Regions from separate parts of the Homo sapiens genome. Here all the other regions are linked to region 3. Evidence: fine-mapped expression QTL. A gene starts in region 3. Each other region holds a variant in brackets. All regions are shown on one strand. Distances are from middle to middle.

Region 1 (10,477 bases), 32 kb before region 3:
GACTGTGGCTTTACCGAAGAGAAAGAGAGGCCGGGATTGTGCATGCATGGAGGAAAGGCCGCGTGAGACGCAGCAGGAAGACACCGCCTGTAAGCCCCGGACAGCAGCCTCAGGAGCAGCAGCCCTGCCGGCACCCGGATCCCTGACTTCCAGCCTCCACAGCCGGGAGGAAATCATCTCTGTCCTGGAAGCTGCCCGCTGTGTGGTATTGAGAGACAGAGACACTGCCCTCTGCTCCAGAAGAGGAGTTCAGAGAGTCAGGTGACCACCACAGGTCATACAGTGAGCCAGGAAAGAACACAGTGCCCCGTGATTCCGAGCACAGCCTCTGCCATCAGACAGGCCTGGCCCCAAATCTCAGTGCTCCACCCATGAAACCCTGCACAAGTTACAGCCCTCTGTAAGCCTCAGTTTCCCTGTCTGTCAAGTGGCACCTCAGGGCATTCCGTGCCTCGGGTCACAGCGAGCATCAGGAGCAGGAGCGCGAGCGCACACTGATGGCGTGGATTTCACTCAGACCAAGGCCTCCTGACTCCACGTCCAGGGCTCCAAACCCTGCACCCCCACTGTGGGTAGGCCCCAGCCTGTGAGACTTCCACCCCGGGTACAGCCAAAGCCACCCTCCACGGGCCAGGAACTGCGGGAAGCCTGCATTTCTAAGAGCCAGGGGCTGGACACATGGCGCAGGATTGTGTTCCTGTGGGAGGACAAGCAGTGCCCTACTCCCAAGCCCAGGAGGCAGGAGACAGAGACCAAGAGACCAGAGTGTGCAAAGCAGCAGGCAGAGCCCTCCGAGCAGAGCCCCCTCCGAGCAGAGTCCCCTCCGAGTAGGGGCCCCCTCCGAGCAGAGCCCCCTCCGAGCAGGGGCCCCTCCGAGCCCTCTCGCCTGTGTCAGCCGTGACCAAGCATACCCGGCTGGTGGGGAGTTAGGGTGGCTACAGGTGGCCCAAACCCTCCCGTCCCTCCTTATTCCCTTCTGCCCTAAACCCATAGCTTGGACCACCAGACCCCTTTCCACGGTCCCCTCAGCCTTGCAGGGAGGCCTTTGGGGGAAGGGCCAAGCACTGGGCACAGCTGGGCCTGGGGGTGGAGAAACACTCCCTCCACCGGATGAGCCAGTGCCAACTTTGTCTAAACACCCTGATAGTAGGCAGATGTTATTGTTCTTTGGCCCTCCACAAAGAGAACAAGCAAAATGCCTTGAGCATCCAAAAAACCTGTTGCCATGACCTTCGCTCTCGGCCAGTCTGCTTTGCTTTACTGTTAAAATTCTTTGAAGAATGCCTAAGCATCTTTTTTTTTAATTTTTTCTTTTTTTTTTGATACAGAGTCTTGCTCTGTCGTGCAGGCTGGAGTGCAGTAGTGCAATCTTGGCTCACTGCAACCTCTGCCTCCCAGGTTCAAGTGATTCTCCTGCCTCAGTCTCCTGAGTAGTTGGGATTACAGGCGTGCACCACCATGTCTGGCTAATTTTTGTATTTTTAGTAGAGATGGGGTTTCACCATGTTAGCCAGGCTGGTCTCGAACTCCTGACCACCCACCTCGGCCTCCCAAAGTGCTGAGATTATGGGCCTGTATTGTATTGCATTTCTTCAAAATTGTAACAGAAGACGAAACGTGGCTTTACCAGTACAATCTTAATGACAAAACAGTCAAAGCAATGGCTACCAAGAGTTGGAAGTGGTCCAGGAAAGCAAAGCAGACTGGCCGAGAGTGAAGGTCACGGCAACAGGCTTTTCGGATGCTCAAGGCATTTTGCTTGTTCTCTTTGTGGAGGACCAAAGAAGAATAACATGTACCTACTATCAGAGGGTTTTGAGAAAGTTGGCCAAAGCCTTAGCAGAAAAATGCCCAGGAAGCTTCACCAGAGCCCTTCTCACCCCAACAATGCTCCTGCTCATTCTCCTTATAAAACAAGGACAATTTTGCAAGAGTTTCTATTGGAAATCATTAAGCATCCAACTTTCCCAGTTTGGCTCTTTCTGACTTCTTGTTTCCTCATCTTAAAAAATCTGTAAAGGGCACTCATTTTTCTTCAGTAAACAATGTAAAAAAGACCACATGGGAATTCCTGGGAATTTCACCATGAGGAACCCTCAGTTCTTTAGGGATGGACTAAATGGCTGGTGTAATTACTTACAAAAGTGTCTTGAACTTCATGGTGCTTATATTGAGAAATAAAGTTTATATTTGTATTTTTATTTTTTAATTCCACTTTTCCACAAACTTTTTGAAGTCCCCTCACACATTATATACAGACATATGCACATATACTATACACACATACATGCATGTACACATACACATACGTACTACCCTGATATGCATACACATACATATGCACACATACATACTATACACATATGCATGCACAGACATCTATATGCATACATACACACATGCACATGCATATACACATAGAGATGTGCATTCACCTCCACATACATACATGTGCATGCAAACATACACATATTAACAGATATGCAATATGCAAACACGTAACATATGCACACATAAAAACACACATACATACACATATGCATGATGCATGCACACATTCATGCATTTATGTATAAATACAACCACACATAGCATGTAACTGCACATCGTATATATGTACATATAAACATGCCCATATACACATACATAAAACTTACAAACCTACATACGTGGATACATGTGTACACAAACATACATACATGAATACAAACATATACATACATATGTAAGAGCACTTGGAATTCAGTTTCCTCAGTGATTTTTAACAGCTGGGCTTTCTCTGGACCCGTGGCCTGGCTTTGTTATCTCAAAACAGGGCATCCAGCAGCACATACATAGACAAAGGCATACTCACATGACATACCCATGCATACTACAGGAGCACACATACACATACATACTATTCACACACACGCTATATGCACATACACACAAATGCTCATATGCACATACACACAGGTACATATACATATGCACACATGCATGCACATATATACATATAGGTATGTATCCATACATACAACTATACATGCACATACATCTATGTGCACGTGTGTGCATGAGTGCATGTACATAAGCCTACTTTTATCCTCACACAGCTCAAGCTTGTACAGTTGGTCAGCACCTAGGCTTAAACTGAGAACCCCAGAAGCACCCAGGAGACCCTCACTACACCCCAACCTCCACATACCAGCCACACACACTGGGACCTATTGGTGTGAGCTGTTGTTTCTGACAGAAATATTCTATTTTGGGGTGTTTGGAGGAAGAAGAAAAGGTGAGAACCGTTGAAATCCACTGAGATTGTCAACACATTCTCTACTTCATACCACAACCTTTTCTGTAGCTGACTTATTTCAACTTGAAGACTTCTCTTGGAAACTAACCCTTGGCCGGACAGTAGTGTGGTTACAGATCCAGAGGTTCTCTAAGGACAGCAGATGAGAACAAGAGCCCTAACGCCTTTTTCCCTCTCCCAAGGCCTCGTGCACCTCCAAGTGACAGAAAGCTTTTTGCAAGAGGCAAGCAACGCCCCCTCCCGCTGGCTGCGTGCGACAACAGGAATGCAGCACCTGATGCCCCTGGATCCCTTCCCTCTCTGCCATAGGAGCTTCTGGCTGTGGCACCCGGCACACTGGGCACGAACGCCACAGCCCATCCCACATCTCATCACCATTGTGAGCAGTGCTGCGCCTCCCATCTGTCCTCTGGACACGCATGAGGATTGAGGGCAGCTCAAAGCAGGTGTGGAGTTCTTATTAATTTTAATGAACACTTCACACAGTCCTCTGAAGTGGAGAAGAGGCAAAAAGAGCATTTGAAATTCAGCTTCCTCGGTGATTTTTAACAGCTGGGCTTTCTCTGGGCCATGGCCTGGCTTTTTATCTCAGAATAGGCCATCCAACCGCACCACCTCCTCGAATGGGGGGTGGGGGGTCTCACTTTCCCAACAGGACACTCCCTCAAAGCCCCAGCGCACACCCAGCCAGCCTGTTCAGGGCAGCCCCCACTGCAGCCAGGTCCCCATGTGCAGAGCATGCACTTTGCGGAAGCAGAGGCATCTGGACCCCCACCAATGGGGACAGCCCAGGCTGGCAGCAGCAGCACCTGGGTGCTGTTAAGACCAGTGCAGGGTCTCAGGCCGCCCTCCTGGGCCAGCAGCTGCATTTAAATGAGAGCCCCTGGAGAAACCTGAAGCAGAGCCCCACCTCCATAGATAGGCAGAGAACACAGCCCCCGCCCAGCATGGCCGGAAGCCTCGTCCCACAGACCAGCTCTCTAGAACCCTGCGGGGCAGCCGCTTCACCTGGGGAAGGGAGGATGACACAGATGGGGGGCCCTTGGCCATAGACTGGGATCACCCACAGATTGCAGAGGTATTTGAAGATATGAAACCTCAGGATATTTTTCCAACAGTGGATGGAGGGCCTTCCAAACGTCAGGTCTCATGCTAGGACCTGAAGACGCAAGGATGAGAGCGGATCTGCAGACCCCAGGCCCACTCATGGCAGCAACGCCCTGTGAAGGCTGTGATTTTGATGTCAGAAGTTGAAAACAATGGTTTGGAGTGGCCACAGGCTGGGCAACAGCAGGGCTGGCATGGGAGCAGGGCTGTCACACCCAGGTCCCGCTCTTCCCAGGGATGCTCCTCCCCTTCAGGAGCCCCTTCAAGAAGCACTGGGACAGGTGCTGAGACCCACTTTGTCATCACGCCCAGTGTTATGCCCAGCATCATCGTGTGCAGCATTGTGCCCAGCATCGTCGTGCCCAGATTCACGCTGTTGTCATGCCCAGCATCGTCATACCTAGATCTACCATCATCATGCCCAGCATCGTCATACCTAGATCCACCGTCATCGTGCCCAGCGTCACTGTGCTCAGCGTCATCGTGCCCAGAGTCATTATGCCCAGATCCACCCCATCATCGTGTCCCATCTTCATGCCCAGCATCGTTGTGCCCAGAGCCATCATGCCCAGATGCAGACCGTCATCATGCCCAGTGTCATGCCCAGCATCATCATGCCCCGATCTACCGTTATTATGCCCAGATCCACCCCATCGTCGTGCTCATCGTGCCCTCCATCATCATGCCCAGTGTCATTGTGCCCAGATCCACCCCATCATGCTCATCGTTGTGCCCATCGTCGTGCCCAGCGTTGTGCCCAGCATCACCATGCCATCATCTTGCCCAGCATCATCATGCCCAGATCCACCCCATCGTCATGCCCCCCGTCATCATGCCCCCCATCATCGTGCCCAGTGTCGTCATGCACAGCATCGTGACCAGCGTCATCATGCCCAGGCGAAGTTGAGTTGCAGCCCCCAGTTTGCCCAGGACTGCAGTGGTTCCCAGGACCCTAGAAACCAGGAAGTCTTGGCCCCCAAGTTCCCGCAGAGGTCACTGTTTTTCTCCAGGTGAGTCTCCACAGCATAATGCCATGGAAGCCACAGATGTTCGTGACCGGTCATCAGGGAACTGCCACTGTGCCCCCGCTGCAACGAGCTAGAAAGCTATCCACTAGCACCCAGCTAGCAAGCCCACGGGCAGAAGAGCCAGTGGGCCAGGGGAGTTGGCAGGGCTGTGTCCCACTGGAAAGTGAGACTCCAGGGAGGGTGTGGAGGGTGGTGGCGGCTGAGGTCCTGGTTCCCAGCCCATCTGCGCCCCCTGGGGCCCGGGCAC[C/T]GCCTACCACACAGGCAGAGCGCCCAGGGTGTCCTAGGTCTCAGGGAGGAGATTCATCCCAGGTTGTGTATAAAAAGTCCTAAGTTTATTCCATTCTCTCTTTGACCTAATGTCCTTGTAAACATATTCCATTCTCTCTTTGACCTAATGTCCTTGAGAATAAACATTATCCAGAACAGAGCACTTACAGCTGACGGAAACAGCCACGATTATCAGAAAGAATGTCAGTTGGTTATTGCAGAGGCCGGAAGTCATGCTCATTCCCTAGTGAGTTCCCATGAACAAAAGCACCAGGGCTCAGACTTTCTTCTGTGCAAACGGAGAATAATAACAGCAACCACCAGGCCACCAGGCACCAGGCAACTGCCGCATCCAAGACATTGTGCGTCTATCCTTCCATTTAACCCTTCTGGGAGTCATGGGAGGTAGATCCCCACCCCCCACCCCCCATTTTACAGGTACAGAAAAAGGGGGCTTGGGAAGACGAAGCTGATTCCAGAAGCTGACATAACTGACAGGTGGTGGAGCCACGATACAGACAGGCCCAGCGAGCCCAGGACTGTCTGGTTCCACGTCTGTGGTCTCTGCACTGCTCAGCTGAGGCTGGGACCGCATTGTGCCTAACAATATTCCTCCCTCCCAGCAAACCACGTCCATCTAGAAATGGGGCTTCTGCTCCAGTTCTGTCCAAGCCATGTGGCCATGGGAAGAGTGGTTGCCTATTCTCTGCATCTCAGGGTCCAACTTAAGTGTGAAGGTGGGATTTCCAGATCCATTACCCTGTGATCCCATTTCTACAAAGGACGAGGTGCACTTCCTTTTGGAGATGTCAGAAGCTGTCACGACTGGCTGTGACTGCTGGAAAAAGTAAATACAATGTTATGACTATCCCTGCCTGACAACTCAGATAATAGAGATGTTAAATAACTTTGCAAAGTCTGCCAGGTATGGCGGCTCATGCCTATAATCCCGGCACTTTGGGAGGCCAAGGTAGGCGGATCTCTTGAGGTCAGGAGTTCAAGACCAGTGTGGCCAATGTGGTGAAACCCCGTCTCCACTAAAAATACAAAAATTAGCCGGGCGTGGTGGTGGGCGCCTGTAATCCCAGATACTCAGGAGGCTGAGGCAGGAGAATCACTTGAACCCGGGAGGCAGAGGTTGTAGTGAGCCAAGATTATGCCACTGTACTCCAGCCTTGACAACAGAGCGAGAGTGAGACTCTGTCTCAAAAAAAAAAAAAAAAAAAGTAAAAAAGAAGAAAAGAAACTTTCCAAACTCATGGGTCCAAGCTGAGGCACAGAGTAGACCCCTGAGTGCTAAACGCCCCTCCCCTAAGCTGACTCCCTGGGATGCCAAATGCCACATCCCTTTATGGACTCCTAGCCCTCCCTGTCTCCAGATTTCAGAAACCCTGAATTACGAGTAGCCTCCCGAGTGCCTTCCCTAACCCCCGCCCTGGGCTGGGTCCATGGCCCCCCACCCACCACAAGGCAGCCAAGAACGCTGTCTCAGCAGTCGCTGTCCTGCACATCCTGCCTCAGGCTCACCCTCCATCCGTGCCCACCCCTCAGCAGGGACCTGAGGCCTGCTTGAGCATGGAAGCCTGACCTACACCTGAACATCAGTGGGGACAGGCCTCGGAGCCTGAAAAAGCCTGCTGCCACTTCTAAGTGGGAGAAGGAAGGAAGAAAGGAGGGAGGGAGAAGGGAATTCCTCAGAGGTTTTAATAGAGAATCCTTGCCGCCTTGGATCAGCAAACCATTGTGTTTGTGGATCCTTTGATTAAGATTCTTTAAGAGGTAGAAATGAAAAGAGTCTATCAGACTTTAACCCCATATCTCTGGGGTAGTCAATGTATGTTTAATGACCCTCTGTAAATCTATCAATCTAATACTTAGGAATAACTACTATATCAGGGACTTGGAACCACTTACTCGCAGGATGGCAGAGTGTGATCCACAAATCCCTACCCTTGAGGAATGTATAATCTAATTAGGAAGACAAGACATGCACACATGGGTGATGTTAGGAGGATGGCAGAAGAGGAGCTTTCTACCATAGTCCCCCCAAAGAAGCTTCCATGTTGACAACTCCCCATGAACAAAAGTGTCTTTGTAGGAGTCTGGAAGTCCAGTGGAGAAGTTCCAGCACACTGTTAGAGAAAAAAATCCAAGAATAGATGCACTGATGAGGGTAAGAACAGTTTCACTTTACCCGTGTGACCGTTTCCCACAACTGTAAGCTGAGCAACTGTGAGCTGAGCAACACAGCTCAGTGCCCAGGGAAACCCCCTTGGCCCATGTTTTTTCCCACTGGAGTAAGTGAAAGTGTAGTAAGTGAGCTTCCAGCTCCCCCAGCCATGCAGGATGCTGCCCAAAAAAAGTCTGCTTCTTTCTTGTCTCACCTCCAATACTGAGGTGACTGACATGGAGGAGAAGTTGGGAGAGACTGGGAGCTAGGAAGAAAGGCTATGGACCCTAATAATTGCTCTGCAGATTTTATTAGGAAGCCCCCCAACAAGCTGATGGAGACGCCTTTCCTGTGAACCATCCCAACTGGACCACGGGCACCCAAATGCTCACATGCTTCACCCAACACTCTGCCAGCTCCCCAAAGGCACCCCCACAGATGGCAAGTGCCAGCATCTCACACAGACAGATAGCTTGACTGTGTGGGATGGGGAGGGAGAAGGCACAAGAACTTGAGCATTTCAGAGCACTGCCCTAGGGGAAACTAATGAGAGGCTAGTAGCACCTAGACTGCCTTTGTGGGATCAAGAAAAGGCATATACTCTTTAAAAATTCACCCCTCTCCAAGAGAAGCAAAAGGTGTGGAGCAGGTGCATCCACAGAAATGGTCTGAGAGAGCCTCAGAATCCCTAGCCAGGCTGTTTTGTAAAGAAATCTCTCTCCCAAAAAAAGTCCATAAAGACTAGAGGAGGTGACTGCTTTTGCAAATGAGAAAACAGCAATGCAAGACTTCAAGGAATATAAAGTATCAAGGAAACATGACATTACCAAAGGAACACAATAATACTCTAGTAAACCAATCCCAAAGAAATGGAGATCTACAAATTGCCTAACAAAGAACTCAAAATAATCATTTTAAGGAAGCTCAATGAGATACAAGAGAACATAGACACACAACTCAACAAAATCAGAAAAACAATACATTAAAAATGAGGAATTCAATGAAGAGATAGAGATTTTTTTTTAAAAAAAGAACCAAACAGAAACTCTAAAGCTGAAGAACAGAATGAATAAAATTTAAAATACAGCAGACAGCATCAAGAGCAGAATTGATCAAACAAAAGAAAAGAAAGAATATGTGAGCTTGATGACAGGTCATTTAAAAATATTCAATCAGAGAAGAGAAAAGAAAAAAGGCATTAAAAGAAATTAAGAAAGCCTGTGAGATCTAAAGGACACCATCAAGAAAGCTAACATTCACATTATGGAAGTTGTATTAGGAGAATATAGAGAGAAGCTAATAGAAAGCTTATTTAAAGAATTAATGCCTAAAAAACTTTCCAAACTTGGGAGTGATGTGGACATCAAGGTACATGAAGCTTAAAGTCTCCAAATAGGTTCAACCCACAGAAAACTTCACCAAGATACATTATAATCAAACTACCATAAATCAAAGACGAGAAGAGAATTTTGAAAGCAGAAAGAGAAAAGAAACTCATCACATCCAAGAGAACCCTCATAAGGCTATCAGCAGACTTCTCAGCAGAAAACTTGCAGGCCAGGAGAAAGTGGGATCATATATTCAAAGTACTGAAAGAAAAAAACTGGCAATAAGATTATGTACTCACAAAGCCATCCTTCAAAAATAAAGGAAACATTAAGAGTCTCCCAGATACACAAAAGCTAAAGAAGTTCCCACTAGACTTCCCTTACAAGAAATGTAAAGGAAAGTTCTTCAAGCTGAAACAAAAGGATGCTAATTAGTAACATGAAAACATTTAAAAGTGTAGAGATAACTGATAAAACTATATACTTGCCTTAGTCTGTTTTCTGTTGCCATTACTGAATATCTGTGACTGGGTAATTTATAAAGAAAAGAAATTCTTTTTTACAGTTCTAGAGGCTGGGAAATCCAAGGTCAAGAGGCCACATCTGATGAGAACTCTCCACAGAGTCTTGAGGTAGCACAGGGCATCACACAGTAAGGAGGCCCACGAGAGAGGCCACCTGGCTTTTATAATAGTCCCACTCTCATGATAACTAACCCACTCCTGTAATAACCCATTAATCTATTAACTCATAAATGGATCAATCCATTCATAATGTCAGAGAACTCATGATCCAGTCACCTCCTAAAGGCCCACTCTCTCAATACTATTACATTAAAGATCAAGTTTCAACGTGAGTTTTGGAGGGGGCAAACATTCAAATGATAGCAATAGTCAAATTCAGAATACTCTGATGGTGTAATGGTTATGTGTAAATCATATATAACTCTAGTATAAAGGTTAAAAGACAAAGATATTAAAATAACTATAGCCACAATAATTTGTTGTTGTTGTTTGTTTGTTTTTAGAGACAGGGTTTCACTCTCTCACCCAGGCTGGAGTGCAGTGACATCATCATAGCTCACTGCAGCCTCCAGATCCTGGGCTCAAACAATCCTCCTGCCTCAGCCGAGACTACAGGCACATACCACCCAGCTAATATATTTTACTTTTTTTTTTTTTTTTTGAGATGGAGTCTCATTCTGTCGCCCAGGCTGGAGCGCGGTGGCACAATCTCAGCTCACTGCAAGCTCCACCTCCCGGGTTCAAGCGATTCTCCT
Region 2 (10,477 bases), 20 kb before region 3:
TTGCTTTTTGAAAAGGCAAAAAAAAAAATTGACGAACCTTTAGCTAGACGAAGAAAAAAGAGGTAACTCAAATAAAATCAGAAATGCAATGGAGAAATTACAACTGATACCACAGAAATATGAAGGGTCATAAGAGAGTAATACGAATAATTATACATCAAAAATTTGAATAACCTAGAAGAAATGGATAAATTCCTAGAAACATACAACCCACAAAGACTGAATAATGAAAAAATACTAAATTTGAACAGATCTGTAATGAGACTGATTCTGTAGTCAAAAATCTCCAATCGAAGAAAGGCCCAGGACCTGGTAGCCTCATGCCAAACTTTACCAAAAATTTAAATAGGAATTAATACCAATCCTTCTAAAATCTTACAAAAAATTGAAGAGGAGAGAATACTTCTGAACTAATTTTTAAAAGCCAGCATTACCCTGATACCAAAGCCAGACAAGAACAATACAAGAAAAAAAGATTACAGGCCAATATCCCTGATGAACACAGATGCAAAAATCTTCAACACAATGCTAGCAAACCAAATTTAACAGCACATTAAAAAGATTATACACGGCCGGGAGCGGTGGCTCATGCTTGTAATCCCAGCACTTTGGGAGGCCAAGGCAGGTGGATCACCTGAGGTCAGGATTTCAAGACCAGCCTGGCCAACATGGTGAAACCTCATCTCTACTAAAAATACAAAAATTTGCTGAGCGTGGTGGTGCGTGCCTGTAATCCCAGCTACTTGGGCGGCTGAGGCAGGAGAATCGGTTGAACTCAGGAGGCGGAGGTTGCAGTGAGCCGAGATCATGCCATTGCACTCCAGCCTGGGCAACAGAGCAAGACTCCGTCTCAAAAACAAAAGTATTATACACCATGATCAAGCAAAATTTATGCCTGGGATGGTTCAACATACAGAAATCAATAAATGTGATATGCCACATTAACAGAATGAAGAATAAACATCATATTATCATCAGTAGATGCTGAAAGAACGTTTGACAAAACTCAGTGTTGTTTCATGATAAAAGCTCTCAAGAAAGCACATATACAAAGAATGCACCTCAACACAATAAAGGCCATGTATGAGAAGTCCACAGCTAACATCATACTCACTGGTGAAAAGCTGAAAGCTTTACTCTAAAATCAGAAACAAGGCAAGGATGCCCATTCTCGCCTCTTGTATTCAATATAGTGCTGGAAGTCCTAGCCAGAACAATTAGGCAAGAAAGAAAAAAGGAAAGTGGAAAGGAGAGAAAAGGAAAGGGGAAAGGAAAGAAAAGGAAAGAGAGAAAGAAAGGAAGAGAAAGGGAGAGGGAGGGAGGGAGGCGGGAAAGAAGGAGGGAGGGATCCATCCAAATTGGAAAGGGAGAGGTAAAGCTGGCTCTGTTTGCAGATGGCATAATCTTATATAAATAAAACCCTAAAGACTCCACTAAAAACTGGTTAGCACTAATAAACAAATTCAGTAAAGTTGCAGGATACAAAATCAACACACGAAAATCAGCAGCATTTCTATACACTAACAATGAGCCACCTGAAAAAAATTAAGGAAACAATCTCCTTGACTGTAGCACCAAACAGAATGACATATTTAGGAATAAATTTAACCAAGGAAGTGTTGTGTACCTGTACACTGAGAACTATGAAACATTGAAGACACAAATAAATGGAAAAAATATCTGTTCGTGGATCAAAAGAATTAATATTTCAAAATGTCCATACTACCCAATGCAATCTACAGATTCAGTGCAATCTCTATCAAAATTCCAAAGGCACTTTTCAGAGAAATGGAAAAAAAAATCCTAAAATTCATGTAAAACCATAAAAGGTCATGTATAGCCAAAGCAGCCTTAAGCAAGAAAAACAAAGCTGAAGGCATCACACTTCCTGATTTCAAATTATATTACAGATAGATGGTAATCAAACCAGTATACTTGCTCAAACAAGCACTGGCATAAAAACAGACACATAGACAATAGAGCAGAGAAGAAAGCACAGAAATAAGCCCATGAGTGCATATACAGTCAACTAACCTTCAACAAAGGCACAAAGAATTCACAATGCTATTGGGAAAACTGAATATTCACATGCAAAAAAACAAAACTGAATCCTTGTCTTATACCATACATAAAAATCAGCTCAAAATAGAAGACTTAAATGTAATACCTGAAATCACAGAACTCCTAAAAGAAAATGTAAGGGAAAAGTTCCTTGACATTGGTCTTGGCAATGATTTTTTGGGATATGACCCCAAAAGCACATGCAACAAAAGCAAAAATAAATAAGTGGTACTAACCTATCCAACTAACAAGTTTCTGCATAGCAAAGAAAGCAATCAACAAAACAGAAAGGTACCTATGGAATGGAAGACAGTATTTGCAAACCATATATCTGATAAGAGGTTAATATCCAAAATATGTAAGGAATTCATACAACTCAATAGCCGAAAAACAAATAACCCAATTTAAAAATGGGCAAAGAATCTGAATAGATATTTTTCTAAGAAGACATACAAATGTCCAACAGGTTTATGGAAAGGTGGTCAACATCATCAATTATCAAGAAAATAGAAACTAAAGCCACAATGAGACATTACCTCACACCTGTTAGGATGGCTGGTATCAAAAAGTCAAAAGAGATTAAGCATTGGAGAAGATGTGGAGAAAGGCGAGCCCTTAGACATTGCTGGTGGGAATGGAAAACAGTACAGAGGCTCCTTGAAAAAATCAAAAGCGACAACTCAGTGGTGGCCACTGCGCAGACCAGACTTCTCTCGTTCTCGCACGCCTCGCTCCGCTTTTCCTCCACAACCATGTCTGACAAACCCGATATGGCTGAGATCGAGAAATTCGATAAGTCGAAACTGAAGAAGACAGAGACTCAAGAGAAAAATCCACTGCCTTCCAAAGAAACGACTGAACAGGAGAAGCAAGCAGGCAAATCGTAGTGAGGCGTGCGCCGCCAATATGCACTGTATATTCCACAAGCATTGCCTTCTTATTTTACTTCTTTTAGCTGTTTAGCTTTGTAAGATGCAAAGAGATTGGATCAAGTTTAAATGACTGTGCTGCCCCTTTCACATCAAAGAACTACGGACAACGAAGGCCGCGCCTGTCTCTCCCATCTGTCTGGCTGGCTGGCAGGGAAGGAAAGAACTTGCATGTTGGTGAAGGAAGAGGTGGGGTGGGATGACAGTGAAATCTAGAATAAAACCAAGCTGGCCCAAGGTGTCCTGCAGGCTGTAATGCAGTTTAATCAGAGAGCCATTTTTTTCTTTTTGTCAAATGATTTTAATTATTGGAATGCACAATTTTTTAAATATGCAAATAAAAAGTTTAAAAACTTAAAAAAAAAAAAGAAAAGAAAAAATCAAAAGCAGAACTACCACATGATCCAACAATGTCACTACTGGGTCCATAGCCAAAGGAATGAAATCGGATCTTGAAGAGATCCCTACAGTTTCATGCTGACTGCAGCATTATTCACAACAGCCATCACATAAAAACAACCTACGCGTCTGTTGACCAATCAGTGGATAAAGAAAACATGGCACATATATAACGGAATATTATTCAGTCTTGAAATATAAGAAAATCCCAGCATTTGTGACCTGGATGAACCTGGAGGGCATTACGCTAAGTGAAATAAGAATGTTCCAGTCCTCTCCCTCTCCCCACAGTCTCCCTCTCCCTCTCCCCACGGTCTCCCTCTCCCTCTCCCCACGGTCTCCCTCTCCCTCTCTTTCCACGATCTCCCTCTTGATGCTGAGCCGAAGCTGGACTGTACTGCTGCCATCTCGGCTCACTGCAACCTCCCTGCCTGGTTCTCCTGCCTCAGCCTGCAGAGTGCCTGGGATTGCAGGCGTGCGCCGCCATGCCTGACTGGTTTTCGTATTTTTTTGGTGGAGACGGGGTTTCGCTGTGTTGGCCGGGCTGGTCTCCAGCTCCTAACCGGGAGTGATCTGCCAGCCTCGGCCTCCCGAGGTGCCCGGATTGCAGACGGAGTCTCGTTCACTCAGTGCTCAATGTTGCCCAGGCTGGAGT[G/A]CAGTGGCGTGATCTCGGCTTGCTACAACCTCCACCTCCCAGCCGCCTGCCTTGGCCTCCCAAAGTGCCGAGATTGCAGCCTCTGCCCGGCCGCCACCCCGTCTGGGAAGTGAGGAGTGTCTCTGCCTGGCCGCCCATAGTCTCGGATGTGAGGAGCCCCTCTGCCCGGCTGCCCAGTCTGGGAAGTGAGGAGCGCCTCTTCCCGGCCGCCATCCTGTCTGGGAAGTGAGGAGCGTCTCTGCCCGGCCGCCCATCGTCTGAGATGTGGGGAGCGCCTCTGCCCCGCCGCCCTGTCTGGGATGTGAGGAGCGCCTCTGCCCAGCCACGACCCCGTGTGGTATCTGAGGAGTGTCTCTGCCCGACCGCCACCCCGTCTGGGAGGTGAGGAGCGTCTCTGCCCGGCCGCCCCGCCTCAGAGGTGAGGAGCCCCTCCGCCGGGCAGCCGCCCCGTCTGAGAAGTGAGGAGCCCCTCCACCCAGCAGCCGCCCCGTCTGGGAAGTGAGGAGCATCTCCACCCGGCAGCCCCCCCGTCCGGGAGGGAGGTGGGGGGCAGCCCCCGCCCGGCCAGCCGCCGCGTCCGGGAGGGAGGTGGGGGGCAGCCCCTGCCCGGCCAGCCGCCGCGTCCGGGAGGGAGGTGGGGGGCAGCCCCTGCCTGGCCAGCCGCCCCATCTGGGAGGTGGGGGGAGCCTCTGCCCGGCCACCGCCCTGTCCGCGAGGTGGGGGGCGCCTCTGCCCAGCCGCCCCCTTCTGGGAAGTGAGGAGCCCCTCTGCCCGGCCGCCACCCCGTCTGGGAGGTGTACCCCACAGCTCATTGAGAATGGGCCATGATGACGATGGCGGTTTTGTCAAATAGAAAAGGGGGAAATGTGGGGAAAGGATAGAGAAATCAGATTCTTGCTGTGTCTGTGTAGAAAGAAGTAGACATGGGAGACTCCATTTTGTTCTGTACTAAGAAAAATTCTTCTGCCTTGGGATGCTGTTAATCTTTGACCTTACCCCCAACCCCCTGCTCTCTGAAACATGTGCTGTGTCCACTCAGGGTTAAATGGATTAAGGGCGGTGCAAGATGTGCTTTGTTAAACAGATGCTTGAAGGCAGCATGCTCGTTAAGAGTCATCACCACTCCCTAATCTCAAGTACCCAGGGACACAAACACTGCGGATGGCCGCAGGGTCCTCTGCCTAGGAAAACCAGAGACCCTTGTTCACTTGTTTGTCTGCTGACCTTCCCTCCACTGTTGTCCTATGACCCTGCCAAATCCCCCTCTGCGAGAAATACCCAAGAGTGATCAATAAATACTAAAAATAAATAAATAAATAAATAAAATCCCTTTAAAAAAAAAAGAAAGAAAATATTTCTCAGTGGATTCCTGAGAAAGGGTGCATATGAGGTACATTGTTGTGAACTGAAATACATGAAAATATTTTATTCTGCTCTCAGCCTTGATGGATAGTTTAGCTGGGTGTAGAATTCTTGAATGGAAATAAGTTTCCCTCAGGATTTTAAAGGTACTGTTCTTTCTTCAACTGCTAATATTGGGAAGACTGATGTTATTCGGATTCCTAATTCTTTGTATGTGATATTTAGTGTCTGGAAAATTTTGGATTTTGTTTTTATCTTTGTGTTCTGAAATTTCAAAGTCAGTTGTCTTGGTATGAAACTTTTTTTCGTTTACTTTGCCAGGTTTCTGGTAGTTCTGTTCAATCTAGATACTCATGTCCTTTCATTATAAGAAATTTTCTTCTACAACTTGTGCAACTTTAGGAGTTTTACTCTGAGCACCCTTATTGGTCATCCTGTCCTTCTGTATTGCCTATAAAAAATATCTGTGTTGAAGATTTTTTAAAGCTTTACTTAGAATTGTTCCTCTCTAAACTTAATAAATGGAAAGCTGATTTAAAAAAAAGAAAAAAAAAGAATGTTCCAGCTCTTGCTTAGGATGAGGGGTACGGGCGAGGGCAATGGTCAAAACTGATTGCACGGTAATCTCAAAATGAGAATGACCATAAATTATACCTCAAAAACGTTTCAAAAAACAGCGTATGGGCTTAAATATATATTTAATTATCTTTGTGTTGTTATAATAATTTTTTTTAATTGGAAACAACTTAACTCTCCAATGTTAAAAGATTGGTTGGGGGGTTGGCTAACTGTAGTATATGTTCTCATAGAATGATGTGTACATACTGAGAAAGCATTTCTAGAGACAATCTTTAATGACTTGGAAAAAATGTATTACTTGAGGCCAGGAGTTCGAGACCAGCCTGGCCAACATGGTGAAACCTAGTCTCTACTAAAAATACCCCCCAAAAAAAAATTAGCTGGGTGTGATAGCACATGCCAGCTACTCAACAGGTTGAGGCAGGAGAATAGCTTGAACCTGGGAGGAGAAGGTTACAGTGAGCCAAGACTGTGCCACTGCACTCCAGCCTGGGCAACAGAGCAAGACTCAGTCTCAAAAAAAAAAAAAAGAAAGAAAGAAAGAAAAAGAAAAAACACTTAAAAAAATTTTAAGCAGTAACAAGGAGTATATAAAGATAATAGCCACCATATATTTAACCCCTGCCATGCACTGTGCAGCTACTTTACACATGATACATTTCCTTTACACGTATGATCTAGCTCCCATGAGCCTCGGCACAGTCCCACGAGGCAGGCAGAATCACACGACTTTACGAAGGAGGAGACAGACGCAAAGTGATGAGGGTCCTATCTGTGTACTCTGCCACGCCGCCTTCATAACGACACTGATTCACTTAGCGCTCACAAATGATCTGGAAGCTGTTATTCCCGTCTTACAGATGAGGCTTAAAGGGGCCAGGAGCCTCTGCTGAGTTCCAGGACACACTTTCTTTCCTAGAGCCCCACAGGTCAGCACAAGGAGCAGTGCTGAAGGACCACTCTCCCCTCCCTGCTCCCGACCCAAGTCCCATGCCGTCTGCCTCCCTGGGACCCAGAGGGCAGGGCCTGTCCTCTCTGGAACCACCACCCCCACCTCCCCACCCGGCTCTAGCAGGAGCGGTGCCTCCATCCTCAGAGCTCTGAGGGCCGGCCCAGGGCTGCAGGTACCTTTTTCTCCCGTGGGGCCGACTCTTCCAGGCCGTCCGGGGGCGCCTTTGTCTCCCTTCTCTCCCGCATCCCCTGTGGAAGAAGTCACATCCATTTAGCAGCTCGTCTGGCCAGCACAGCGTCTCAGAGTGATTTGTGGAGGAAGAACAGTTAGAAGCGTTCTCCCCGGGTCCCTGCAGGTGGCCAAGCCCCTTCTCTCCCTACCTCCCTCCCCGCCTGCAGCCCAGCCGCTACTCTGGGTGCCCCTGATTCTGCTTTTAGGGCTATTTGTCTCCCTGCCCTACCTTCTCTCTTAGAAAGGGCCTGTGTTTCTCTCACCAGTTACCCCTCTTGGCGGGCTCCTAGTCTGTCCCTGGGTGCACAGTGCCGCGTCTAAACGCCGGCTCTCCCCAACCCTAACACCAATGAGAAGGGCGGCAGCGTCTCCAGGCGCCCCCATGGGAAGCGTCACCCCGACCTCTCCCTGAGCTTCATCTGCTTGGTACTCAGGGAAGGATGAACTATGTCAGCATCCCACTGGCCCCATCAGTGTGAGCCCCCCAGGGCACAGGCTCCTGCTCAGCCAGGGCCTCCACCACGGGGGCTGCCTGTGACCAGGTGGGCACGTCCACCCACTTCCAAGGCTCAGCAGGTGCAGGAGACAGAGGGTGAATCACTGGTGGAGACACCCTACAAGGCACAGTTCAGAGATGTGCGCAGTGAGGCCAGGGGCCTCAGGAAGGCCTGTGGACACCAACACCTCCACTCCAGTCTTCTCCCCCCACTCTAATCCACACCAAAATGACTGTCCTGAAACAAATGGAATTCTATTATGTCTCTAGATTCAGCTATAAATGACGTGCAGTACTTGAGCCTCTCCTCAGTGTGGTCTCTACATCGGACCCCGGTCTTTCCCTACTCTGTGCCCTCTGCCCAGCCTGCCTGGTCAGCCGGCTCCTGTCCAGGGTCCGCCTTCTCACCTGGTTCTCCGGGAGGCTCTTCCGGATTCTCTCAACAGGGCCACTCTGCTGGCTGGGACTCGGCTCTGTAGTCATTTTTATAAGGCCGTATTTCTTACCTGTTGCACTATCCCTCCTCTGAATGGTTGCAGACAGGGAGTGTGTGTGCATGTGTGTGCATGTGTGCATGCGTGTGCGTGGGTGCGTGGGTGCATGTGTGTGCGTGTGTCCGCATGTGCATAGGTGTGCACGTGTATGTGTGCGCGTGTGTGCGCTGATATGCTACAAGTTCACCTTCCCTCTCTGCACAATTGTGCCAGCGTTCACGTAAACTTTACTTCTCTATAACTCTCCATTTGCACCTTTGTGGGCAGCCAGCCATCCAGGTGCCGAGGCAAGAGACCGAGGGCACGAGCTGTTCCAGTATGATAAAATATACAAAACAACCCTATATATAGAGAGAGCATATAGAGTATAACTCTTGTTGTTTTATATATTTTATCATACTGGACCAGCTCGTGCCCTCGGTCTCTTGCCTCGGCACCTGGACGGCTTGCCGCCCACACACGTTGTGGCCCACACACCTTGTCTTGGAGAGAGGCTCAGTTGAGATTACAGATCCCTCCACAAAATCCCCAAAGCTGATTATCTGGCCTCACGGAGGGGACTTTCCATTTAAATCCAAGTAACAAAGAGAAAAGCACAGCGATGGTGGCAGGCCCATCCCCACATCACCCCCGTGCCACAGCCCCAGCCCCGCAGGGCCACCTACTGAAAAGCCTGTGGGCTGCCCCTGGGCTGACCCACGATCAACACCCACATGCTGCTCTGAGGCTCCAAGTAGTTCTCAAGTTTGCTTTCTTATCTTGTAAGAAGAAAAGAGAAGTATTGACAGTTTAGCAAGAAATATCCACTAACAAGATAAACTCAGCATTAAGAATCCCCAGAGGTTTCAGGGGCACCAGCATCGTGCAGAAGAAAGAACAGAGAAGACGGAACAGTGGAGCAGCCGGACGCTGACTGTGCAATCGGTGAATGGAGGTCCTCATAACATGGGAGAGGCCAGTCCGGGAACAACAGCACACTGCAGCGGAAAGAGCCGAGCAGAGACGCTGTGCGGGAGCCACTCCGCAGAAAGGCGAGTCCCCGGTGACCCAGGATGAAGAGGCCTCGTGGAGCCAGCGGTGAGGAGGAAGCATTGTTCACAGGGCAGCACTAATAAGAAATGCAGGCTTTGTTTGTTTGTTTTGAAGTTACGAAGTTGAGAGTTGAAGGAAAAACTCACAAATGCCAATGTCGCTCTGACAGCAATTCCGGAAAGAGAGGAACAAAGCCTTCGTGGCTGCGAAGATTTAGTAGCTGCGATTTCCCAGTGCTAAGGAAAGCCATGAAAGAACTCTGTGAAAGGGCCTGCGGAGAACCACACGGGGAAAATCAGAGAAAAGTAACTCAGACATGTCAGAGCAACATCACAGAACACCAAGAATAAAGAGAAAATGCTGTCAGCTACCCAGGAGGGAAAAACAGGTTTAAAGACTGCATACCTGTGAATGAGAATCAGATGGACATAAGAATTCTCATTAGCAACACCGGACGCAAGAATAAAATGAGGCAATAACCTCAACAAAGGAGCCATAATTTAGACGGCAAGATCCGAAAAGCCCCTCTGAGGGGTGGTTCTCAGGCTAAGCTGCTGAGCAGGGGTAGCCAGGCACAGAGTAAGAAGTGTTCTGAGGACAGGGTCAGCAGGTGCACAGACAAGGGGGAAGGGCTGGAGGGGATGACGGGAAGCCAGGTGGTTGGGCAGAGCGAGCCACGAGCCCGAGGCAGTAGGCAGCCCAGGGACTTCATGCCTGGAGCTCATGGGGATAACCTGACCACCCATGCCACGGTCCAGGCCAATAGTGATTGTGGCTGAGATGAGGGCGGAAGAATGTTTCCTTCATAAAGCATTTCACACCGCCTACATGACAGCAGTCTGCTCTTTCTCCCACTGGCTGAAAACTCTGAGAAGACACAGCTCCATCTCACCCAACCCTCGGTCCCCCAGAGCACCAGGAAGAAGGCGGGTGCTCCATCAGTACTCGTAAAGAATTAACACTAAGCAGGTCTGCCAGCTCTTCTCATACTGCTTAAGAAAGCTCCTGGAGTTTGTACACGGCATTCACTTATTTGCATAATAATTTCACCTCTCCCCCTACATGGGGCGGGCACTATGTCCACTCTAGAGGTGAAGACACAGCTACGAGAATCAAGTGACATGTCCAAGCTGGGATGTGCTGGCACGCCAGTGTGTCTTTACCACACCTTGCTCAGGCTTCAAAACCCCAGAGCGAGACTCACTAACCAGCATGACTACTCACCCTCGTCTCCTCTCCTCCTAAAGATAAAGCAGTAAGGACAAGTTTGTCATGATAGCTTCTGAC
Region 3 (10,393 bases):
CAGGACTGGAGTGCAGTAGTGCATCTTGGCTCACTGCAGCCTCAATTTCCTGGGCTCAGGGGATCCTCCCACCTCAGCCTCCCTGGTAGCTGAGACTACAGGCATGTACCACCATGTCTGGGCAATTTTTGTCTTTTTTGTAGAGACAGGTTCTCACCATGTTGCCCAGGCTGGTCTCAAACTCCTGGGCTGAAGTGATCTGCCTCTCTCGGCCTCCCAAGCTGCTGGGACTACAGGTGTGAGCCACTGTGCCCAGCCTTGCTTGCTTTTGAGTTTTGCTTTTTTTTTTTTTTTTTGAGACAGAGTCTCGCACTGTCACCCAGGCTGGGGTGCAGTGGCTCGATCTCAGCTCACTGCAAGCTCTGCCTCCCGGGTTCACGCCATTCTCCCGCCTCAGCTTCGCAAGTAGCTGGGACTACAGCTGCCCGCCACCACGCCTGGCTAATTTTGTGTATTTTTAGTAGAGAAGGGGTTTCACCGTGTTGGCTAGAATGGTCTCCATCTCCTGACCTCATGATCCACCCACCTCGGCCTCCCAAAGTGCTGCGATTACAGGCTTGAGCCACCGTGCCTGGCCGCTTTTGAGTTTTATAAGATATCACAGCACAGTATCCATAGTCTTCAGTGTCTTTATATTCAACTTTATGTAGTTGTAGCTTATGGATTATCTAATCTTATTAAGGCAGACTGCATGCCACTGACGGGTGCTGGGAGAGGAAGGGCACAGCTGGTGGCGTGGAGCTCACCCTCATGACTGTGGGGCCAGTAGGCCAGTGCTTGCCTCCCTGGGCCATGGAGGGGCCATGGCACTGCCCAGAGACCTCCCGGGACTTGGCATCCTGAGGGCAGTGGGTGAGGGACAGCTACAAATCCACTGAACCACTTACCAGCACCTTGGCCACACCACATGCCGTTTGCAAGCCCCTCCCCTTCTCTTAATATGGAGATAGGCTATTTGAAGGGATTGCAGCGGTAATTAATGCGTGTGGCACCGTGACCCAGTGTGGCACATAGCAAATGCTCACCAAATGGCAGCTCCTGATCCTACTGTGATCACATGCATGGGCTCCCAGTCCAGGGAAAGGGCTAGAAGCCAGGGTTCCTCATCTGAGAATGCCTGTCCCCCGCACAGTGCCTCTGCGTCAGTCAATTCTCCCGCAGAATGGGTACAGGGAAACCCGTTTCCATTCAGTGCCGTCCTGTGGTGTGGGTCATCGCGCACCAGATGAGGACCTGGCTTCTTCCTGCAGAGCCCCTTACAGAAATGACTTTGTAAAGGACAGGGGTACAGAACGTCCACTGGGTTGGAGGAAAATAACTCCCATACACTGCACAGAGATCAGCACCATCACGCACTCGTCACAGATGAGGAAGCCAAAGAAAAGAAAAATTAAGAACGCTTCCCAGCATTGCGTAACCAGTGTGTGGTGAGGGTGGGACTGAAATCCAGGGCTTCCCAGCACTGTTGGCTGTTTCCTCTTTCTGCCCGACTACCCTCTCCCCATGCATCAAAGGAAGGGCTCACCTTCCTCCTTCAGTCACGATGTAAGGGATTTTTAAAAATAGGTTTTTGATGGAGAGAACAAGGAGCCAATATACGTTGTATACCAAATGTGGACACATATCTGATTTAATTCCCAAAACAACCTTGTACCTTATTACAGTTCCTCACTCTAAAGACAATGCAATATGGAAAGTTGAACAATCGGCCCCAACTCCACCACCAGGCCACGCAGCTGGGCACTCCGCCTGCAGCCTCCTCTCCACACCCCGCACCCACGGCCCGCCTCCAGCCTCCTCTCCACACCCCTCACCCACGGTCCGCCTCCAGCCTCCTCTCCACACCCCTCACCCGCTGCCTGTGCCCACACCCTTCTCCCCTGTGCTCACGCGGATATTAGAACAATAAGGGCAACCGAAAAGCGGAAACCCAGGACCCCACCAGCTGACTTCACTCCTCCCACCTTCCTTGTTCGCTGCCAGGCTTGGGTCCACATGCAAGTGATCTGTGCAAGCTACAGCTTCGTAAAGGTCTCTGGGCACGCAGAAGCCTGCAGTTTAGCAGGCACCAAACTGAGTGAACAAGTGAATGAGTAAATAAAGGAACAAACAACAGAACGAAAGTTCACAATTGCATCGCAAATAGAGCCTTCTGCTCTTCTCCTCGTGGTGTTTCCGTGTTTCCAAATCTTTATTATATCTAATGTCTACACAGTATTTCCAGGGCAGGCAGTCTGCAGACGTGGGTTACTGCCCTGCTGTCATTGTCCTGAAATTCCTAATAATGTTGAAATGGGCCAAGCACAGTGGCTCACGTTTGTAATCCCACCACTTTGGGAGGCCGAGGTGGGTGGATCACCTGAGGTCAGGAGTTCGAGACCAGCCTGGCCAACATGGTGAAACCCTGTCTCTACTAAAAATACAAAAATTAGCTGGGCATGGTGGCGGGTGCCTGGAATTCCAGTGACTCGGGAGGCTGAGGCAGGAGAATCGCTTGAACCCGGGAGGTGGAGGTTGCAGTGAGTCGAGATCACACCACTGCCCTCTAGCCTGAGTGATAAGAGTGAGACTCAGTCTCAAAAAAATGAAATAAATAAAATAAAATAAAAATAAAAAATACAAAAATAATGTCAAAACAAGGGGCACCACAAGGTTTGTAGCCAGACGTGCTGGTCCACTGGGCTCATAACCGTAGTCTCCCCGGCTCCTGCCTCAGCAGCAGTATTTTGGCTCCTTGTGGTATGTGGCTTCTGAAAGCAATAGTAAACTCTTCCTCCCCACCCACTCAGTACGCAAGTCGAACCTCACTTCTCAGTGTTTGCTGGATGCAAACTGGGTTTAGTTTTTTTTTTTTTTAATGTCTCAGGAATCAAAGGCTGACATGGGAATTTCCCCTCTAGCTAGAAGTGATTCTGTTCAGGTATAACCAGGTGTTCAGCAAGGCTTTTACTGCCCTCACTCCGCAGATGTCCCAGGAGTGGCTTCAACAAAGATCAGGCTCCGTCTCCCAAGAAAAGGGGTGAGTAGTGAGCAGAGAAACCCAGAGCAGCCCAGGCAGGATTTCTCGTGCCTTCACTCACACTCATCTGCTGATCCCAGAGCAGCCCAGGCGGGATTTCTCGTGCCTTCACTCCATTCATCCGCTGACCCCGGAGCAGCCCAGGTGGGATTTCTCATGCCTTCACTCCATTCATTCACTGACACCAGAGCAGCCCAGGTGGGATTTCTCGTGCCTTCACTCACACTCATCTGCTGATCCCGGAGCAGCCCAGGCTGGGATTTCTCGTGCCTTCACTCCATTCATTCACTGACCCCGGAGCAGCCCAGGCCGGGATTTCTTGTGCCTTCACTCCATTCATTCACTGACCCCGGAGCAGCACAGGCTGGGATTTCTTGTGCCTTCCCTCACTTCACTCATCCACTGATCCCCGGAACAGCCCAGGCTGGGATTTCTCATGCCTTCACTCGCTCCACTCATTCACTGACCCCGCTGCCCATTCACAGAGTTTCTGTCCACTTTCCTGCGAGGGGCCCCAGCTAGGCCTATGGGCACAAAGGAGGCACAGGCCCTGCAGCGGGGCGCTCTCAGACGCACAGCAGGAACCAGGGCAGGTAGGCACAGGGTGAGGGCACCCAGGCGCCCGAAGGAGTCTCTGCTTCCCAGAGGTCTCGCCCTCTGACTGCCTTCTTAGAAGAGGAATTCCATTTTGTAAACGGAGAAGCCACAGCTACCCCCAGGACCTCTTTAAGAACAACATCCTTATCTCCCAGCCAGGGCCCAAGACGCTCAGGGCCCTCCCATCAATGGAAGGGGCAGACTTGACAAGCAGGGGAGAGGGGGTTAAACGTGGAATCCTGAGAGGAAATACATGTTATGAATGAAATAAACAATGGGGCCAGGCCCAGTGGCTCATGCCTATAATCCTAGCATTTTGGGAGGCCAAGGTGGGCAGATCACCTGGTTAGGAGTTCGAGAGCAGCCTGGCCAACATGGTGAAACCCCCCTCTCCACTAAAAAGTACAAAAATTAGCCAGGTGCCATGATGCACACCTGTAATCCCAGCTACTCAGGAAGCTGAGGCAGGATAATCGCTTGAACCTGGGAGGCGGAGGTTGCAGTGAGCCAAGACGGTGCCATTGCACTCCAGCCTGGGTGACAGAGCCAGAGTCCATCTCAAAAAAAAAAAAAAAAATGAAATAGACAATGAGAAAAAATCATGGCTTCAGTTGCCAAACATGCTATTCTACTTTTTCATTAAGTATCTACAGCAAGGCCCAGCATCTTACAGGCACCACAAATACCTCCTAAGAACCACATCCCTGAAGCATGAGGAGGTTCCTCTCACTGGGGACTGCCCCAGCCCCACCGCGGTGTTTCCCTCCCTACAGTGACAGAGCACCTTCTGGGGCAGCCTGGATTCCACCCACAACAGCACACGCTCCTCTTAGCTTCTTACCAAGAGCACAGAGTAAGAAGGCACCTATCCTCTCTTATCTTCCCCCAGCGGTCAGCACATTACCGGTGTGCTCTCTTCTACGGTACATGGATTTTTCAAAATTGTAAACAAAATCGAATAGCTGTGAAAGATTGGGGCAGTGCTCTGCCTACCACAGGCAAAGTGCTTCCCATCAAACCAAAATTCCAGCTATGCACATGAGATGGCTTTAAACGTTCATCTTTAAATTGAGAACGACCACATCACCTCAGCTCTAAAAAGACCGCCAGTTCCTAGCGCAAGGCATCCAGGTAGGAGGCAGCGGCCCTAGGAAACTTTCCTCCTTTCCAATTTTGGAGACAAGATGACCCCACTTGGTTTTAGATGACCCCATCTGAACTCAAAGTCTTTCCCTGGAAAGTTGCCAAAGCAAGGCCCACCTTTCCCCCACCTCTCTGATCCCCGTTCCTGAGCCCAACACAGAGCCACTGGTCCCTGGGGGCAGTCGTGGCTGCTGTCCGCCTGGCCCGTCAGACGCTGCTCAGGCTCAGGAACAATCGTCAGGTTGTGAGACCAGGTACTGCACTGCGGTTTGGAATTAGCGAAGACTGTTTAGCCCCCTGGGCCTTGGGCTGTTTGAAATCTGCCACCCAAGAGGGTGACTCCATCATCCAGCACCTCTCATGGGTCGGATCCCATCTCATCAATAGGCTCCACGAATTTCCGCCATGAACTAATCAAACTTTGGAACTCTGGTGCCAGATTTATTGAGACTCAATCTTTTGCCTGGATCTAGGGACAGATTCCCATCCTCCTCGCTCAGCAGGAGCCCACCTCGCGCCCAGTTTGGAAGCCTGCCTGCCTCCCCTCTGCACTGTCATAGCCCCGTGAAACCCTCAGCTGCAGCCCCGGGCAGAGTCTCCTACCTGAGCACGCGCTAGGCGAACGGGGCGTCCTGCCCGTCGCTGGCCCGCGAGGACACTGCCCCCAGGCGCCTCATGGCTGCTATTTAGAGAGGCGGCCGCAGTCCCAGGCGCAGGGAGAAGCCTCGGCCCGGGCCATCAGACAGCCCAGCAAATCAGGCCGCCCGGCCGCAGCGTTATCTCGGGGAGCTTCCTGTCTGCGCTGCGTCCACCGTCCTGCCTGGGGAGTGTGGGAACGCCTGGAACTCCCTGAGGCCGGCTTTGGGGTGGGGGGCAGGACCCTCCTGGAGATGCCCCTGCTAACTCTCCAACCCGAACATCCCAATTTTGTTTCTTTTTTGGCTTTCTCTTCTTTCTTTTCGTTTTTTGAAAAAATAAGCATGACTACTGTGGAAATTCAAAAGAGCATAAAGAGGAGGGACGCTCATCACCTGGCACCAATCAGACAGAAACGAGGGCAGCTGACTGATCTCCTTTCCTTTGTTCATATGGGATTTCGCTTCAAAAGTCAGCAAGAGCTTGACCACGGCCTGTGGAGACCTGGCCACACGTGAGTCCGGAAACTCACTCTACGCATTTAAGTTTCATTTAAAGGCAAGTTTCATTTAATGCCAGAAACAAATGTTAGTCAGGGGCTGGACAGATCCAGCTTCTATGCAGCCCGAATCTTGCATGTTTTGGGGGATAGCGGAACCTTCTTTAAGAAAAAGATACATATAAAATTACAATCATAAGAAGCTAGGTTCAAAGGTGAATATTTATTTAGACTGAGAAATCATAAAATAAAACTGTAAAAACACAAATTCCACACACATAATAAAATTAAGGAAAAATAATGGATTCTTTATTTAAAACGTATTATTGAAGTTATACATAAATTTGACAACTTAGACAAAATGAACCACTTCTTGAAAACACGAACTACAACATGCCCAGCATGAAACAGATAATTCAACAGCCCTATGCCAAGGAAGGGAATTGAACTTGCAATTTAAACGCTCCCCAGAAAGACATTTCAGGGCCAGATGGTTTCACAGGAGGGTCTACAAAACGTTTAAAGAAAAATTAACACCAATTCTACACATCCTCTTCCAGAAAATAGAAGAGGAGGGAATATTTACCAATTCATTTTATAAAGTTGATTATTACCCTGATACCAAAACCAGACAAAGACAGAACAAAAACACTATAGACCAATAACCCTCATGAATATAGATGAGAAAATCCTTAATAAAATATTAACAGACAGAATTCAGCAATATAGAAAAAGATTTATCAACTATGACCAAATGGGGTTTCATCCAGGAATGTGAGGCTATGTCAATATTCAAAGCTCCTTTGATAAAAACCCATTAACAAGCTAACAAAGAAAATCAAATGAATATCTCAATTTATATAGAAACAGCATTTGGCATAAACCAACACCTTTCATGATAAAAACTCTCAGAAAAATAGGTGCAGGGGACCTTCCTCAACTTGATAAAGAGCATCTGTCAAAGGCAAAGCCACAGCTAACATCATACTTCATGGGCAAAAATGGAATGTTTCCTTCCTGAGATCAAGACAAGGCAAGGGTGTCCACTCTTACCTCTTACTCAATGCAGTGCTAAAGTTCTAGGCACACCAGCAGGGCCCGAAAAGGAAATAAACAGCATGTAGATTCGAAAAATAAAATAACTCTGTCCCTTGTTGCAGATGACATGGTTGTCTACTTAGAAAATCCCAGAGTCTACAAAAGAGCTCCTGGAAACTATTAAATCAGTGTGACAGGTGACAGGATACAAGGCAAACATTTAAAAAACCAAGTAGGCCAGGCGTGGTGGCTCACACCTGTAATCCCAGCACTTCGGGAGGCCAAGGTGGGAGGATCACCTGAGGTCAGGAGTTAGAGACCAGCCTGGCCAACAAGGCAAAACCCCATCTCTACTAAAAATACAAAAATCAGCCAGGCATGGTGGTACATGCCTGCAATCCCAGCTACTCGGGAGGCTGACGCAGGAGAATCACTTGACTCCGGGAGGCAGAGGGTGCAGTGAGTTGAGGTTGTGCCATTGCACTCCAGCCTGGGTGACAGAGCGAGACTCTGTCTCAAAAAAATAATAAACAATGAAAAACCAAGCAGATTTCTATAAAATAACAATGAACTCATAGACACCAAAATTCAAAATAATATCATTTACAATTGCTTTAAAAAAGGAATACTTAGGTGTAAATCTAACAAAACATATATAGAACTTACATGCTGAAAACTACAAAATGCTGCTGAAAACCTCAAAAAAGATCTGAATAAACAGAGAAACACGTCGTCTTCATAGATTAGGAGACTCACCCCAAGCACAGTGGCTCATGCCTGTAATCCCAGCATTTTGCAGGGCTGAAGTGGGAGGATCACTTGAGTCCAAGAGTTCAAGACCAGCTTGGGCAACATGGTGAAACCCTGTCTCTAACAAAAACAATACAAAAATTAGCCGGGCATAGTAGAATGGTCCCAGCTACTCAGGAGGCTGAGGTGGAAGGATCACTTGAGCCCGGGAGGTGGATGTTGCAGTTAGCTGAGATCGCACCACTGCACCCCAGCCTGGGTGACAGAGTGGGACCCTGTTTCAAAAATAATAAAATGAAAATTAAAAAGTATAGATTGGGAGACTCAACAGAGTAAAAATGTTGATTCTCCCCCAAGTTAATATACAGTACAAGCTTAACACAATTTCTATCAAAATCATAACAATAATTTTTGTAGATATAGACACGGCTATTCTAAAGTGTATATGAAAAGAGAAAGGAACTAGAATAGCTAAAACAATTTTGAAAAAGAATAAAATAGGAGGAATCAGCTCTCCGTCTCCGTCTCCGTCTCCGTCTCCGTCCCCGTCCCCGTCCCCGTCCCCGTCCCCGTCCCCGTCCCCGTCTCCGTCTCCCTCCATGGTCTCCTTCCACGGTCTCCCTCTGATGCCGAGCCAAGGCTGGACGGTGCTGCTGCCATCTCGGCTCACTGCAGCCTCCCTGCCTGATTCTCCTGCCTCAGCCTGCTGAGTGCCTGCGATTGCAGGCGCACGCCGCCACGCCTCACTGGTTTTCGTTTTTTTTTTTGGTGGAGACGGGGTTTTGCTGTGTTGGCCGGGCTGGTCTCCAGCTCCTAGCCGCGAGTGATCCGCCAGCCTCGGCCTCCCGGGGTGCCGGGATTGCGGACGGAGTCTCGTTCACTCAGTGCTCAGTGGTGCCCAGGCTGGAGTGCAGTGGCGTGATCTCGGCTCGCTACAGCCTCCACCTCCCAGCCGCCTGCCTTGGCCCCCCAAAGTGCCGAGATTGCAGCCTCTGCCCAGCCGCCACCCCGTCTGGGAAGTGAGGAGCGTCTCTGCTTGGCCACCCATCGTCTGGGATATGAGGAGCCTCTCTGCCTGGCTGCCCAGTCTGGAAAGTGAGGAGCGTCTCTGCCCGGCCGCCATCCCATCTAGGAAGCGAGGAGCGCCTCTTCCCCGCCGCCTTCCCATCTAGGAAGTGAGGAGCGTCTCTGCCCGGCCGCCCATCGTCTGAGATGTGGGGAGCACCTCTGCCCCGCCGCCCTGTCTGGGATGTGAGGAGCGCCTCTGCTGGCCGCAACCCTATCTGGGAGGTGAGGAGCGTCTCTGCCCGGCCGCCCCGTCTGAGAAGTGAGGAAACCCTCTGCCTGGCAACCGCCCCGTCTGAGAAGTGAGGAGCCCCTCCGTCCGGCAGCCACCCCGTCTGGGAAGTGAGGAGCGTCTCCGCCCGGCAGCCACCCCGTCCGGGAGGGAGGTGGGGGGGGTCAGCCCCCCGCCCGGCCAGCCGCCCCATCCGGGAGGTGAGGGGCTCCTCTGCCCGGCCGCCCCTACTGGGAAGTGAGGAGCCCCTCTGCCTGGCCAGTCGCCCCGTCCAGGAGGGAGGTGGGGGGGTCAGCCCCCCGCCCGGCCAGCCGCCCAGTCCGGGAGGTGAGGGGCGCCTCTGCCCGGCCGCCCCTACTGGGAAGTGAGGAGCCCCTCTGCCCGGCCAGCCGCCCCGTCCGGGAGGGGGGAGGGGGGGTCAGCCCCCTGCCCGGCCAGCCGCCCCGTCCGGGAGGGAGGTGGGGGGGTCAGCCCCCCGCCCGGCCGGCCGCCCCGTCCGGGAGGTGAGGGGCGCCTCTGCCCCGCCGCCCCTACTGGGAAGTGAGGACCCCTCTGCCCAGCCAGCCGCCCCGTCCGGGAGGGAGGTGGGGGGGTCAGCCCCCCGCCCGGCCAGCCGCCCAGTCCGGGAGGGAGGTGGGGGGATCAGCCCCCCGCCCGGCCAGCCGCCCCGTCCGGGAGGGAGGTGGGGGGGTCAGCCCCCCGCCCGGCCAGCCGCCCAGTCCGGGAGGGAGGTGGGGGGATCAGCCCCCCGCTCGGCCAGCCGCCCCGTCCGGGAGGGAGGTGGGGGGGTCAGCCCCCCGCCTGGCCAGCCGCCCCATCCGGGAGGGAGGTGGGGGGTCAGCCCCCCACCTGGCCAGCCGCCCCGTCCGGGAGGGAGGTGGGGGGGGTCAGCCCCCCGCCTGGCCAGCCGCCCCGTCCGGGAGGTGAGGGGCGCCTCTGCCCGGCCGCCCCTACTGGGAAGTGAGGAGCCCCTCTGCCCGGCCAGCCGCCCCGTCCGGGAGGGAGGTGGGGGGGTCAGCCCCCCGCCCGGCCAGCCGCCCCGTCCGGGAGGGAGGTGGGGGGGGTCAGCCCCCCGCCCGACCAGCCGCCCCGTCCGGGAGGGAGGTGGGGGGATCAGCCCCCCGCCTGGCCAGCCGCCCCGTCCGGGAGGTGAGGGGCGCCTCTGCCCGGCCGCCCCTACTGGGAAGTGAGGAACCCCTCTGCCCTGCTTGAAGGCAGCATGCTCGTTAAGAGTCATCACCACTCCCTAATCTTAAGTACCCAGGGACACAAACACTGCGGAAGGCCGCAGGGTCCTCTGCCTAGGAAAACCAGAGACCTTTGTTCACTTGTTTATCTGCTGACCTTCCCTCCACTATTGTCCTATGACCCTGCCAAATCCCCCTCTGCGAGAAACACCCAAGAATGATCAATA

Evidence for each region. PIP is the estimated chance that this variant, and not a neighbour inherited with it, causes the effect. A credible set is the group of variants that fine-mapping cannot tell apart.
Region 1: its variant is the best candidate, but not a certain one, in a credible set for the expression of COLEC11 in ovary (GTEx, PIP 0.71).
Region 2: its variant is the best candidate, but not a certain one, in a credible set for the expression of COLEC11 in gastroesophageal junction (GTEx, PIP 0.60).

The regions. Positions count from the first base shown.
Region 1 is chr2:3,622,075-3,632,551 of GRCh38, reverse strand. All of the region lies in intron 3 of COLEC11 (collectin subfamily member 11), which reads right to left. Among named protein-coding and RNA genes, the nearest start is that of ALLC, 31 kb to the left of the region's middle. RefSeq lists enhancers at 4,314-5,025, 7,659-7,898, 7,929-8,148 and a silencer at 10,384-10,477. The variant C/T (reference allele first, on the strand shown) is at 5,681.
Region 2 is chr2:3,610,019-3,620,495 of GRCh38, reverse strand. It overlaps COLEC11 (collectin subfamily member 11), which reads right to left. Exons shown (of 7, transcript NM_024027.5): 3 at 7,114-7,185. It also overlaps the pseudogene TMSB4XP2. Among named protein-coding and RNA genes, the nearest start is that of COLEC11, 20 kb to the right of the region's middle. RefSeq lists an enhancer at 4,917-5,421. The variant G/A (reference allele first, on the strand shown) is at 4,045.
Region 3 is chr2:3,590,138-3,600,530 of GRCh38, reverse strand. COLEC11 (collectin subfamily member 11) reads right to left here and starts at 5,419. Exons shown (of 7, transcript NM_024027.5): 1 at 5,363-5,419.